4 linked regions of the Homo sapiens genome follow. The protein of the gene in region 2 purifies or fractionates together with the protein of the main gene of each other region. This does not show direct contact. Each region holds a gene or a part of one and is shown on either strand. Other genes may lie near its edges.

The links. Proteins that work in one complex are often made in the same cells at the same time.
Region 1: the proteins of LYZL1 (region 2) and GALNT18 purify together in Homo sapiens (affinity purification with mass spectrometry; 2 studies listed by BioGRID and IntAct, with this or other methods). This does not show direct contact.
Region 3: the proteins of LYZL1 (region 2) and EOGT purify together in Homo sapiens (affinity purification with mass spectrometry; 2 studies listed by BioGRID and IntAct, with this or other methods). This does not show direct contact.
Region 4: the proteins of LYZL1 (region 2) and POGLUT1 purify together in Homo sapiens (affinity purification with mass spectrometry; 2 studies listed by BioGRID and IntAct, with this or other methods). This does not show direct contact.

What each region holds. Positions count from the first base shown.
Region 1 is NC_000011.10:11,619,206-11,623,411, forward strand, and holds the start of GALNT18 (polypeptide N-acetylgalactosaminyltransferase 18), read right to left. Parts: upstream 2,801-4,206; 5' UTR 2,389-2,800; coding exon 2,154-2,388; intron 1-2,153. UniProt on the Homo sapiens protein: Catalyzes the initial reaction in O-linked oligosaccharide biosynthesis, the transfer of an N-acetyl-D-galactosamine (GalNAc) residue from UDP-GalNAc to a serine or threonine residue on the protein receptor.
Region 2 is NC_000010.11:29,292,070-29,295,569, reverse strand, and holds part of LYZL1 (lysozyme-like protein 1 precursor), read right to left. Parts: intron 3,052-3,500; coding exon 2,893-3,051; intron 1-2,892.
Region 3 is NC_000003.12:68,986,185-68,989,684, forward strand, and holds part of EOGT (EGF domain-specific O-linked N-acetylglucosamine transferase isoform a precursor), read right to left. Parts: intron 2,834-3,500; coding exon 2,741-2,833; intron 2,394-2,740; coding exon 2,322-2,393; intron 2,198-2,321; coding exon 2,111-2,197; intron 1,330-2,110; coding exon 1,261-1,329; intron 1-1,260.
Region 4 is NC_000003.12:119,475,463-119,478,962, reverse strand, and holds part of POGLUT1 (protein O-glucosyltransferase 1 precursor), read right to left. Parts: intron 1,651-3,500; coding exon 1,515-1,650; intron 630-1,514; exon of another isoform or gene 489-629; intron 1-488. UniProt on the Homo sapiens protein: Dual specificity glycosyltransferase that catalyzes the transfer of glucose and xylose from UDP-glucose and UDP-xylose, respectively, to a serine residue found in the consensus sequence of C-X-S-X-P-C.

The DNA.
Region 1 (4,206 bases), on a different chromosome or scaffold from region 2:
TGGCCCTCTGTCGAGATTGTGGTTATTTCTGAATACCCACAGGGGTCATTGCACGTGTACAAGTGGAACAACACGTGTTTTAGGGACCCTGTCTCCTATTTTTTTAACCTATCTTCTCCAATTTTTCAGGTATAGATTTGAAAGTGCTGAACAACACATAGTTATAAAGTTTCCGGGGAGAAAAATCACAATGCTTCCTTTCAACTTCAACATCATGCTTTTCCATGTGGAACCTTAGAAATCATGTGACATGGTCCACATTCCACATGACTGGCACCCACTCCGTTACAGGCTCAGGGGTTAATGGCATCCCCTGAAAGCATCCCCAAAGCAGTACCTTGCTCACCTCCTGCCTGACCAGAAAGAAAAGCACAAGAGAATCATTTTCCAGGAACACACACACACACAGAATCTGTGAATGAAAATCTCAAAATCTGTCGGCAAACTAGAAATGTCAAAGTAAGGCATGGCTTTGTGTCTCCTGGGGAACATTCTGAATCACCCTGGGGGAAACACTGTACTTCTATTGCTGATTAATAGTCAATCAAGACCTATGGGATGGAAAAGGACACGTAAGAAATAACAGCAACTGGCACCCACAGATAGGTAAATTGGTTTTCAAGCCCAGTGCCAGGTTGAGAGGCAGAGGCAGGTCTGAAGAAGAAGCTGTCAATGTCCCTCTTTTCTGGGAAGGTGCCGAAGCCATGGGCTTGTTTTGAAGTCATTAGTCAGGAAGCACTATGGATGTGGATGCCTCTCCTGCACTCACCTGAACCTCCCTGAACCTTCCCCTCCTGGAAAGGAACTATTCTGGACACCTGGGGAAACACCAAATTCAGACGGAGGAGCCATCTCTACTCTGGCAAGAGCAGCAGGTGCAAGGATTGGAATTCAGACATCCACGTGTAAACAAAAGGGAGTGCTCCTGGCGGGGGGGTGGGGGGTAAGCCTTCAGTTCAATTCGATTTTGCCAAGGTCTGCCATGCACTGGCCCCTGAGCCTGGTGGGCCTGCTAGGTTTACAGGGGAACCAAGCTCGGCCCTGCCCTTAAGAAGCTCACACACCTGGAAGAAAGCAGGGGGCGCGGGGAGGGGAGGAAGTGTGGACGTGAGCGCGCGCGCGCGCGCGTGTGTGTGTGTGTGTGCACACCCGGCACCAGTGCTCCTGGCGCCCGGAACTCCATTCCCTCCCATGACAGCTCATTGACCAGGTCGCCTCGGGAGAGCGCCCTGCAACCCCCACCCTCCCTTTGGACCCCCGCGCTGGTCTGGAGCGCACCCAACCAGCGTAACCTTACACTTCAGACCCAACCCAGGTCTGCTCAGCCCCGGCTGCTCCCAGGGCCTGAGAGTGGAGCTACAGTAGGGATCGGCCTTCACCCGGTCCCGGGCGGCTCCGCGGGGAAGGCGCAGCCCAGGGCGTGTTCTTCCAGTCTTGGGCGGAGTCATCACCACAGTGGACAGAGACTCCAGCGCTACTTCCCGGCGTTGACACCTGCTCCTGGAGAGGGTCCTGGACCCGCGGGCTGTGGTGGGGGTAGGGACTGCTATAGGTTCAAGCGGCTTTTCAACCACAGAGGGCTCCTTGCATTCCCTATCGCCTACCAACGGGATCACAGCAAGACTGGGGCTGGGGCTGATACAACGCAATTTTCCTAGCCTCGCTTGTCCGGCAGCCTGCGGGTCTTAACTGCCAATAGTCAGGGCCGCCGCGCGGGCATCTCGCCTGACGCCTACAGTGGCCAAAAAAGCTCGTTTGCCCGCGCGTTCCCTCTTGTACACACACAGACATTCACATGCACACACACTCTGAGCCGGACTTGTGTGCGATCCCGAGAGCCCGCGAGCAACCAGCCCAGAGTCACACGCACATTTGGACACGTGCGCAGCGCGCCCCCATACCGCCAGCTAGCTGCACACATCCGCTCGTGCAGCCCTGCGCACACACGTGTGCCCCGGGGAAGAGCGCACGGCCGCAGACAGAAGGTCCCGAACGCAGGCAGGAGCTCACACGCAGGCCCCACGACTACCACGCATCTGCGGCCCCAGAGCCCCGCCGTGGCTGAGTTGATGCGCACCAGCCCCAGCGCACCCCGCGCCGCGCGGGGCACTCCCGGGCCTCATGGGCGACCCAAGTTTCCGGGGCGCCCGTACCTTGAATGTGCTGCTTGATGACATTCTCCAGGTGGTCCAGCCGCTCAATAATCTTCAGAGTGTCCCCTTTGTCTTCCTCCAGCTTCTTGTCGGGCGCCGGCTCCTGCCCCCGCACATACACGCTGGCGATGTAGTTGGTGACCCAGCCCACGTAGAGCAGGCAGATGATGTTAGTCATGCCGCTCAGGATCACGCAAGTGGACACCAAAGTTTTGGTCTTCCTGGTGCACACCATTCTGGGCTCCTTCCTCCATATAGAGCTCCCGGGGGCCCTTCCTTGTCGTGCGCCCCGAACTCCCCCGCGCTCGCACCCCGTAGCACGTCCGGAGCCGCTGGGCACCTCAGCACCTGAGTCCCGAGGTTCTCCAAAGCCCGGTCCGCTGCCGGTGTAGCCGCCGTGCCCAAGTTTGCAGCTCCTGCCGCTGGCCACCCGGAGAGACCTTGACAAAGGAAACCAGGTGGATTTTTTTCCAAATTAAAAATCCCTGAACCCTTCCTAGAGGGGTCACGGGTAGCCGGCAGCCGCGCGTCCAGATGTGTACGTCTGGGAAACTTTGCCACTGCCTGTGTCGGCGGCCACGCCGCTTCCCATCGCCAGCGCCGGCTGCCTTGGCGGTCCGACCGGCCCGCGCTGCTAGGAGAACAGCGGCAGCGGCAGCGGCGGCGGGGAGAGCCGCGAAGCAGAGCGGCCCGGCCCCCTCCGAGCGACAAGCGCTGCCACCAATCGCGCTCCGGCTCGGGAGAGGGGCCGGTGCTGAGCGGCAGCGGACCAACGGGGAGGGAGCGGGGGGCGGAGTCCAGCTCCCAGGCCCCACCTGCTGGCCGCCCCTGGCTCCCGCCCCCAGGGACGCGCCCGGGCCTCCACCCGCGCCTGCACAGGCTGCCCCAGACCTGAAGCTCCCGGAGAGGGCGCGCTGCCAGTCCCAGCCCTTAGGTCGGCAGCTTCCTCCGTTAGGGGAATTCCATCTCTTGCTCTTGGGCAGGAATCTCCTGGTTTTGTGGAGGGGGTGGGGGGTTCGCACGGGTCAGCTTCTTTCATCCGCCCGGGGCTTCTCGCATTGGTGCCACCAGTCGACTCCTGGAATCTTTTCTTGGTTGCCAGGACGCTGAGAAGCCAAGGAAGTGCCAGCCCCAGCGGCATCCACTCCTTCCTTGGCCTCACTTGGGCCTCCACCCTGCCCTCTGCCCTTCAGCCACCGGCCTCCTGAGTGTGTCCAGACCTGGCCCTAAACCTGGCTGAAAGGAGCCAACCCTCCGGCAACCTCCCAGAAGCAACATTGGTGACCTATTAGATGACTCTCTCGACCACTTCTTCCCCCCCCCCACCCCCCACCCCCCACCCCCACCGCCTGCCCCAATTTTTGCCCCTATCTAGGTTTTTCTTTAAGTCTGTACAGCTCCCAGGACATGGATGTGTCCTTTAAGCCCAGTTTTCATTTATGTGGAACCAGGGTCATCCAGTGCATAAAGAAACCCTGCAAGGAAGTGCCGCTGAGGGGAACTGAGGTCTGTGAACTGTAAAGCCCTTCTACATGTTGTTTATGATTGCTATCATAGAGGGCGGTGGGAGAGACCTGTGACTGAGCACAGGAGGAGGCCAGACGCAGACAGTGATACTGCTGTGTTTGTTCTTACTGCCAATGTTTACTCATATTATCCTCTTCTGCTGAACACCCCGTTCTCAGCACCTGAACGGAATTCCTTTAAACAAAGACTTTTTACAACATAGATTTCCTGCCTCTTCTCCATCTCTGAGTTGCTTTATTTTTTTGGCCTAAGCCAGGGAGGCAGCCTGCTGCATGCCCACTTTGTTGTGTGCCAGCCTTCCAACCAGCCACAGAAATACTCAGGGCAGCTCCATCCTGGGATATCTTCTGGATTCAAATGACTGGCCCCACAAGAGAGGGAGAGCACAAAACCAAAGAAAGGGCACTTTATGGCCCCATCAGCCAAGGGCCCTTCTACCAATGCTTTGTTTACAAAACCTCCCCAAAGATGCTATGAAAACAGATACCAACTAGGGACCCGGGAAGATTTCCCTTGATCCATAGCT
Region 2 (3,500 bases):
AGATTAGAGAGTGGACATTTGGAAGCTGGGGACTCAGCCCACCATGGGAGGTAAATGCACACATTTAATCCTCATATTTAACTGAAAGACTCCATTGGTGAGCTCTTAGGGAATGCTAATAAGATTGACTGGGACAGAGAAGGGTTCAAAAGTCATGCCTATGGAAAGTGAATATACTGAATGTTTTAGCTCAGAAGATAAGAAACCAGAGATGAGAGGTACTTATAAATCATTTGCATACAGTTAATAAGTTTTTATGTGTAACATAAAGCAAACTTGTTTTGAATAAACCCAGAAGGAAAAACTAGGATTGATATAGAAGGTTAGAAGAAGACAGATTTTGGCCTAACAAAGGAATGTTCTAAATTAAGGGCTGACCAACAATCGGGAGATCTATCTCAGGAGGTAGTGATCATTCTTTATCAATGTTAGGGTAGGGACAATATACTAGGTAACTTAACATATTATTCAGTCATTCAAACATTCAAACCCATATACTGATTATCTTGTACAATAGTTCCCCCTTATCTGCAGTTTCATTTTCCAAGTTTTCATTTACACTCAGCAGTGGTTGGTTAGTTTTATCAATGTAACATATTTTGAGAGTCAGAGAGAAGGTGCTTACATATTTTTATTACAGTATATTGTTATAATTATCCCATTATTATTGATTGTTAACATCTTACTGTACCTAATTTATAACTTACACTTTGTCATTGGTATCTATGTACAGGAAAAATCATAGTATATACAGGGTTAGGTATTATCTGCAGTTTCAGGCATCAGCTGGGGGTCTTGGGATGTATCTCCCTTCAATAAGGAGAGGACTCCTGGATGTGGCAAAGAGAAGTTAAAACGGTTTATTTTCTGCTCTGAAAGAATTTGCAATAGAATATTTTATGACTCTCTGACTTCACTCTTGTTCCTCATTCTCTCCATTTATTCAATAAACATTTATTGAGCTCCTGCAATGGCCAGGCACCATTCTAGACATTGAGGATACATCAGTGAATGAAACAGAACTCTCTGCCCTCAAGGGACTTACACTCTAGAGGCAGCACAGAGAAAATGCCTTTGACTGAGCTCTGCCCTCTGCCTGTTCAGCATCTCTTGCATCAGTCTTCTCCATGTCACCAACCATGACCATCATTCAGTCTTTTTATGGCACTTAGCTCAATAACTGTGGTGACACTTAAATGGTCTCTGCTTTAATCTATCCCACACCCTGCTTGCAGATTGATCTTGCTGAAGCAATGCTTAATTAACTGACCTCTCTTGGTTTCCTCTTGCAGGCAGAAATCAGTGAAAGCCTCTTAGCCTGGGTTTTTCACACTCAGATGGTCGTTAGCCTCTCCACCTGCCTTCCCTGGGATTCTCTTCATGTCACTTTGTTACAGAAAAAACAAGCCTCTCCCTACTCTCTGTTCATGCTTCACACCTTCCCACAGGCACCTCTTTGCTTTTGCTCTTCCCCTGGCCTGGGATAACTTTTCTCTATCTCTACCCAAATCTTCCCTATCTTCTAAGTCTCGGGTCAAATATCACTGTGTTTACAGAATTTTCCATGATTTTCTTTTTTTCTTTCTTTTTTTTTTTGAGACAGAGTCTTTCTCTGTCACCCAGGCTGGAGTAGAATGGTGCAATCTCGGCTCACTGCAACCTCCACCTCCCGGGTTCAAGCAATTCTCCCGCTTCAGCCTCCCGAGTAGCTGGGATTACAGGCACCTACCACCGTGCCCAGCTAATTTTTGTATTATTTAGTAGAGATGGGGTTTCACCGTGTTGGTCAGGCTGGTCTTGAACTCCTGACCTCAGGTTATCTACCTGCCTCGGCCTCCCAAAGTGCTGGGATTACAGGCATGAGCCACTGTGCCTGGCTCCATGGTTTTCTTAATACTGTCACTTTCCTCTGAAGCCCATGGCACTCAGCGCACTCCTCCTTACATGATTTAACTTCATGTAAGCACATATTCTCTTTTCTTGTCATGTCACATGAAAGTTCGGTAAAGCAGAATTCATGCCTGATGTATTTTGTTATCCTCAATGCTGTGCTCATATGTATTTCTGGAATGACTAAAGTAGAAGACATGAAAGTAAATTCTAGCTTAATTTCTAATGTTTAAGACATGTGGCTAGCTAAATATACTGGCCCACACCAATAACTATAGCACTCTGAGAGGCCGAGGCAGGAGAATCTCCTTAGGCCAGGAGTTCAAGACCAGCCCAGGTGGGACCCCATAACGGGACTCCATAGCCAGACTCTGTCTCTACAAAAAAATTACAAAATAGCCGGGCGTGTGCCTATAGTTCTAGCTACCCAGAGGAGGGAGGATCACTTGGGGCCTGGAGGTCAAGACTGCAATGAGCTATGATCACATCACTGCATTCCAGCCTAGGCAACAGAGTGAGACCCTGTCTCAAAAAAAAAAAAAAAAGAAAAAAGAAAAGAAAAGAAAAAAAAAGAAAGAAAAGAAAAAGGGAAAAGAAAAGAAAGAAACCTAAAGTGTATTCATCTCATTCTGCACTAAGAAGTACAAACTGCATCCTCTGAGCGAATTGCTTATGGAAAGCAGCTGGCAGGCAGCTTCCTTTTTCTTACTGAAGACATCAAATATCTCTAACATGAAAGGGCAGTAGGGTTGTTTGTCCATCCACCTGCTTTAGTGGGGGCTTCATAAAACTGTCTACAAGGAATAAGTCATCTTTGGAGAAGTCAGCCACAGGATCCTGAGTGTCACCTTGGAAACTGTTGCATAATTTACCAATCTGGAACAGACCTATTTGCAAGCCTGAACTCCAAATTTTAGTTAAAGCAAGACATGGTTGGTGATCCCATTGTCGGCTTTCTCGCCTAGTCCTGAGGATGGCATCACTGGAAAGTCAGAGCCTCACCTGAGCAGGCGACATGGCAGTGGTTGTTCTCCTTCAGCTTTCCGCGTCTGCACCACGCGAAGCTGTTGATCTGGAAGATGCCATAGTCGATGCTGCCGTCATCCAGGACCGTCTGGGCTGTGGTGTTGTAGCCGCTCTCATAATATGCCATGCAGATCCCTGGAGGGGGGAAAGCCAGAAACGCCAGCAAAGGAAGTGCATCTTTTGCTCTAAGCTTGGTCTGAGGGCGAGTTTCCTTATCCTTGTTACCTGACTGCTTCCTCCCAATACACCTTGGGCAGGGCAGGGCGGGCATGCGCCCAGGGGGCACACGAGGGGCACATCGGGGGCTGGGATGGCACACCTGAAGCTGTACACCCAGTCAGGGGCTGAGCCTAATCTAGACCAACAGTCAGGTCCCCCCACTCCCCACAATGCCAGCAGAGGTGGCATTATTTTCCCCTTCCCTGGCTAGTGTCATAAGGACAGGACTCCAGGAATAAGGAAATGAGGGGCAGGGGAGGAAGGAGAGGAGACCCAGAGAGCCACAGTTAGGCTAGCAGCCACCCCTGAGTGCGGTGAGGGCAGAGCAGGGGTAGTTGGGAAGACACAGCAGGGAGTGTGGCCAG
Region 3 (3,500 bases), on a different chromosome or scaffold from region 2:
TATACTGGGCTCACGTGGATGATCCAAGATAATCTTCTTACTTTAAGGCCAGTTGGTTGGGGACCTTAATTCCATCTGCAACCTTACTTTCCCTATGCCATGTAACCTAACCTGTTCACAGATTCCAGGGATTTGGATGTGGACATCCTTTGGGAGGAGCAGGAAGAGACATTATTCTACCAACAACGCCCTGCTTTAAAACTTCACAATGGCTTTCCCCTACACTGGAATAAAATCCCTCTCCCACCAAGGTCTAGGAGGCTGATACGATCTGTGGCCCCCTGCACCATGCCTGACCTCTTGGATATCGCCCCACCTCTCTCAAGATGCTACAGTCATATTGGTATTCTGTTTCTAGAATACTGAAAGCTCAGTCCACTAGAATACATTTGACTCTGCCCGAGAGGCTCTCTCCCTTGCTAGATTCTTCTCTGATTAGGTCTTTGAATGCCCTCATGTGAGTACAAACCCCCATCCATCCACATCCCCAGTCTCTATGACATCACCCTGGTTCATCCTTCAAAGCACTTATCACTGCCTGACATCACCGTACTTATTGACGTTTTCACTTACTTCTTATCTGTCTCTCACCTCTACGGTGTAAGCTCCATGAGGTCAGGCACCTTCCCCGTCTTTGCTCTACTCTATCTCCAGGGCCTAGAACATGGCCTGACACATAGCAGGTGCTCAATTAACTATTGTAGAATAAATTCTTACTACTGAGAGGCTATCTTCAGGCCATGATGTTGTAGGTAGTGGCCTTGCATGGTGATCTCATTGAGGTTAAATGTAATTTATGAGTTGGTGCTACTGAAATGAGTAAGGATGCTGAAAATGCAGTTTCTAAGACATGGTCATGTAAGAGGACAGAGATTCTTCCAACTAAATCTGCTGCTGATACCACAGGATTAATGGCCTCAACCATCTGTTGCATCAACTATGCAAAAGAAAGTCTTACATTTTTGCTACTTGTCTGTCCGGATGCCCTCTACTGCAGTCAAGGCAAGATTCTGACAGCTTTTTCCATGCTGAGTTGATGCAGATGAAATTTACTATAAGGCAAAGCTAGTTTGTCTATGGGTGGTTTGGTGAATCTCACTAGAAATTCAAATCTAATAAATAAACCGGGCATAGGCCATCAAACTTTTCTCAAAACTAAGTTTTAAACCAAAGCTTTTAACGTAATGTGAAAAAAAAAAAAACACAATTTGCTCTATGAATTGAATATGAAGGCATTAAAAATGCATACCAAAAACTAACCTCATTTTGGTTAAGGATTTTCCGGTATTCTGTGCTCCGTGCAAGAATGGTGACTCGAATTTTTCCATCCTGTAATCAAAATGAAACGGTAAAATAACACTGCATATGCCTGGGTAGATGAATGAACATCTGAACCCAAAATGTGATTTTCACAAAGAGATGAAACTCAACCAGGATACATTAATAGAACTCTTCTTTTTTAGCTTGATTCCTTCACCACTCTCAGGGAATAAAAATGTATCCACTTCAACCACCGAAGGCAAAAACCAGCTCATTACATTGTCTGTTTGGTTGGGTGGGTGAATTTTTTGGCAGGGGTTGTGTATGTTACATGAACATTTGGGGAGGTGAGGGAGATATAACCAATGAAGGGGGAAAGGAGGACAGGAGGAAGCACATTCTTGTAATATCCCTTAGCTTCTCTTTTATAGGTTTTTGACACCTGGTTTCAGATGACTCCAGGTCAGAAAATGTTTTTGGGTTTTGTTTTGGGGCAGTCTTGCTCTGTCGCCCAGGCGGGAGTGCAGTGACATGATCTTGGCTCACTGCAGCCTCTGCCTCCTGGGTTCAAGCGATTCTCATGCCCCAGCCTCCTGAGTAGCTGGGACTACAGGCACATGCCACCTCGTCCAGCTAATTTTTGTATTTTTTGCAGAGATGGGGTTTTGCCATGTTGGCCAGGCTGGTCTTGAAATCCTGGACTCAAGTGATCCACCTGCCTTGGCCTCCCCAGAAAATGTTAACACAAAAACATGGTCTCCTGATTATTTCTGTTTCTGAAAAGGTGGTATCGATTTTTATTAGGGAAGAAAACTCAAGCCCACCTCAGAATCCGCAGTGTATCCATTACCTTAGGTCCTTCTTGTGTGATGTTTAGTCTGTGTAGTACATGCTGGGCAAATGCCCTGAATAGTCCAGTATTTTGACAGCCAGATATCTAAAATAAAAACACTGGTTCATATTACAATGAATACTTCTGTATTATAATTTAAGATACTGTCAACTTATGTATAAATGTTATGTCTGTAAATATGAATGCTAATGGTAGACAATGTGCTTACCAGAGGAGTATTATAGAACAGCCCATACCTCATGCGGGGGAGTAATGAAAAAACAGCTTCTTTAAAACATACCTAAGAACAAAGATACATTAAAAGAAGATGTAATTTGCACCCTTCACACCAAAAATAGCACGTATAATTTTGAGAAATAGATTTTAATTAATCTCCATTTTGCATTGCTTGAATAGCACACTATTTCATTCAAAGAGAACAGAATTCATATTTTTGGAAAGATTATAGAAAAAACTTTTCAAAGGCTGCATGATTAACAACACTGAGGATTCTAATTATAAAAGAAATTCAGAAATTCAGAAATCAGTGGTAATGGCTAATAGGAACTCATAATAAATGTTTATTTTATGAGTGAGTCATCTGCACTCAAGAAATATTCACAGACATTTCAGGAAAATTTCCAGTACCCTTTTGGAATCATAAGTTTTCAAATGTATAACGTCATAATCAGTAAATGCATTCCATGTGTCGGAGAATAGGTCACCATATCCGTAAGAACTCTGAAAGTAGAAACAAAACAAGGTTTTAGGGCAATAAAAGGATATAACATGACTTTTCAAAGATGCAACAAAATACCTGAATTTGCCTGTGTTAAAAACTAACAATCCTACGCAAGTTCATAAAATCCATACAAGCAAAATGGATCTTCATCTTGGGCCAGAGCAAATGCCTAATTTGATGAAATATCATCAGAAATAATTATCACAATTATACTCTTAGCCATTAATAGTGTTTCATTTTTCTACCTTAACTTCTTTTATTCTCACATCTTTGTAGTTCAGGGCTTTTTCCTGTGAACATCTTATCCAAATTATAGATACACACAACACACACTATGCCACCGTTTACACACACTCTTATGCTCAGTGTGCAAAAACCATCAGGGTGAATGAAAAATCTTTGGAAAAAAATTTCAGAGCAAGAAAATGGGTTCAAAGTTTTAACACTGGCTGGGTGCGGTGGCTCACAGCTGTAATCCCAGCACTTTGGGAGGCCGAGGCGGGCAGATCACCTGAGGTCAGGAGTTTGAGACCAGCCTGACCAATATGATGAAACCCCATCTCTACTAAAAATACAAAAATTAGCCAGGCATGGTGGCATGTGCTTATAATCCCAGCTACTCGGGAGGCTGAGACAGGAGAATCACTTGAACCTGGGAGGCGGGGG
Region 4 (3,500 bases), on a different chromosome or scaffold from region 2:
ACAGAGTGAGACTCTGCCTCAAAAAAAAGAAAAAAGTTTAAAGCCATATGTTCCCCCCTTTTTTTTTTTTTTTTGATCCACCTGCCTCGGCCTCCCAAAGTGCTGGGATTACAGGTGTGAGCCACTACACCTGGCCTCCATTTGTTCCCTTTTTATGGTTACTTCTGTTAAAAATCTGGCCACTGATAAACCTCTAACTCTACTATTTCTTCCACTGGAAATACATGTGCAATATGCTGTTTGCTGTCTCTCAAATATGTAAAAAATGTGATTCATCAAGCACCTTAAACATAACAGCTATTCAATAGAAGCTGCACAATTAACTATAAAGTTGACAGAGTAAAACTCTCCCTTGGAAACTAGAAGTCACTGATTTAAAAAACAGAAGGGAAGTAAAGATGAACGGAAAGTTAGTATACCGACGGTCATACTTTATTATCCATAGAAACAACAGATAGATAACAAACACGAAGTCCCTACTGACTTACATGGGAGCCTCTATCTGTTCTTCTGAGTGAGTTTCATGACAAACAATGGAACCAAACACTTTCGAGAAATGAGGCTAGACCATGGGAAATGCAACACAAATGTGGCCTCTGCCCACTTGCAACACAGGAAATAAAACAAGTCTAGGGAGAAAGTAAACTATGATAAAGAAAAAGTGGGGATAAAAGGTCCCTCTGCTTTAGACAAACCAAATCAGAAATAGTGTTCCTTTTCCCAAATTTCATGGGGTTTTCCTCAATTCACTCTTACCCCATAGAATCTTCCATCCACTCTCTTCTAGCCTTCCTGCCTTCACCCCCAAATGCTTTCCTTGTCTCTAGGGAACCAAGGCCCATCCCTGCCGATACAACATTTACATGAACCTGAGCACTGACAAGACATTCCTTGCCCCCAATTCCCCAAGCCCACAGGTGTATCCTAGCTACTCCAATCTTCCATGATGAGTCTAAAAGATCACCCCCTTGCATAGCCCTCTAGGCTATCTCCAGCCTATCCCTTCAATGCACGGCTTGTACACACACCGTGTGGAGTTATCTGGCACCTTCAGGTTCACTTTTAGCCACCCTGGGCCCCCGGAATATGGTGACAGATGGGACAGCTGATACCCAGCACTATGGCTGAATATATACATAGTAGGAGCTCAACAAACTTTTGGAATGAAGGTGTTCCCTAACTCCAAGCTTTCTTGGACCCCTTCCTCCCATGCTCTGTAAGATCTTCAAGACCCACCTCTAATTCCTGTAGGTTTCTCAGGCCTCTCACGCCCTAGCCTCCATCTCTAGCCCTATAGACACTCAAGCAATCTTACACTACTTACCAGCTCTCAACTTCATCTCCTCTGTCTTTTTGCTCAATCACTGTGATGCTAATAGAGACACAGACCCATTTCTGGACCTCAGTCCTCATCCTTACCATTATCCATCAGACTATGTCACCGGACAAAGATCTCATGCTCATATCCTAGAGGACCACTCTCCATCCACCCATGTGGCTCTCCCTGTACTTACCTTACTGAAGGAGAAGACTGGGATGGCAGGCTCCATCCATTTAGGAACCTGAGGATAATCTCGTACATTGATCACCATCTCCATGTCAGGGAGACGCCCGATCACTTCCAAAATAAAGTGCTCAACACCACTACACCTGTCAACCAGACATACCATAAATTCAGCAGAGTAGTGCCTGCAGGCTCTAGGACAAGGCGAGGTCCCATTCACATTTTAAAGTAAGACAAGCCAGTGTTCCAGTGTTCCATATCATCAGTCTACTGCAAAGTCTCCTGAAAACAATGCTTCTAAAGGGGCTATTCTGCTTTTTTGTATTGTGCAAGTTCACTCATAGCTAAGCTGCTCCAGCTTACAATACTTAATAAAATTTTCCAAATAAATCGTCATAGCTTTGAAGGGAGTATTATTGCTACTTCTACCACTTTATTCATTCCAGTTCTTTTCTTTATTTCCCTTATATGGAATAGTTTAATTAGTAGACAAGATACAAACTCTCGTAATAGCTGAAATAGCTAATTTTCCACCTGTGTTCCTTTGGCTTTGCTCCTCACAAAGACACCATTTTTATTTCCATTATAATTAAGTCTCCTAGTTTATGAGAACAGATAGAAAACCTTTCATTACCTTCAACCTGAATAAAGAACATTATCAAAATCAGTTCTGCAAGCCAGAAAAAGTGTTATATACATAATCATAAATAGTGTAACACAGCTTTCTGACTAGATTCCCTGGGAAATCAGGGATTTCTTGAAAGAAAAAGAAGATACACTGACAGTTTAGCTTGTTTCTGCCTCATCCTCTGAGGTCCTGACCAGCACTATGCTAGGGGCAATATTCAAAGGCTTGATCAAAATTTTCTGGCAGCATGGAAATAACTGATTTAAAATATTGTTTTACTACTTGGGAGACTTAGGCAGAAGGGTTATTTGAGCCCAAGAGTTCTAGACCAGCAACATAGTGACACAGTAGGCAATGTAGTGAGCTCCTCTAGCCAAAAAAAAAAAAAGTGTTTTTTATATAGGGAGATAACTGCAAAAAATATCAACAGTTCACAAACATAGGAAAAGATGCTCAACTGTATTAATAATAAAGAAATGTCAATGAAACTAGATACCAATTTTACCAATCAGATTGGCAAAGATCAAAAAGTCCAATAGTGCAGTGTTGGTAAGGGTGTGAGATCTATTCACAGCATATGATATATCGGTTGTGGAAGTGTTTAGCCTCTTTGTAGGACAATTAGATTCTATTTACCAAGATTTCTCTTTTTTTAAGGTTTTTTTTATTTGAGGCAGGGTCTCTCGCTCTGCCACTCAGGCTGAAGAGTGCAGTGGCATGATCATGGCTCACTGTGGCCTCAAAAATCCTAGGCTCAAGCAATCTTCTCACCTCAGCCTCCTGAGTAGCTGGGACTACAGGTGTGTGCCAACACACCTGGCAACTCTGTATGTGTTTGTGTGTGTGTGTGTGTGTGTGTGTGTGTGTGTGTGTGTGGAGAGACAGTCTTGGTATGTTGTCCAGACTGATCTTGAACTCTTGGGCTCAAGTGATCCTCCCACCTCAGCCTCCCAAAGTGCTGGGATTACAGGTGAGAGCCACTGTGCCCAGCCTGTTTATCAAGATTTTTTTTTTTTTTTGAGATGGAGCCTTGCTCTGTGGCCCAGGCTGGAGTGCAATGGCGCAATCTCAGCTGACTGCAACCTCCACCTCGGGTTTCAAGTGATTCTCCTGCCTCAGCCTCCCGAGTAGCTAGGATTACAGGCACAGGCCACCATGCCCAGCTAATTTTTTTATTTTTAGTAGAGATAGGTTCTCACCATGTTGGCCAGGCTGGTCTTGAACTCCTGACCTCAGATGATCTGCCTGTCTCAGCCATCCAAAGTGCTGGGATAACAGGCGTGAGCCACCTCACCCAGCCTATTTATCAAGATTTTAAAATGACATTAATTGCCCTAGTTATTATACTTTTAGGAATTTAGCCTACAT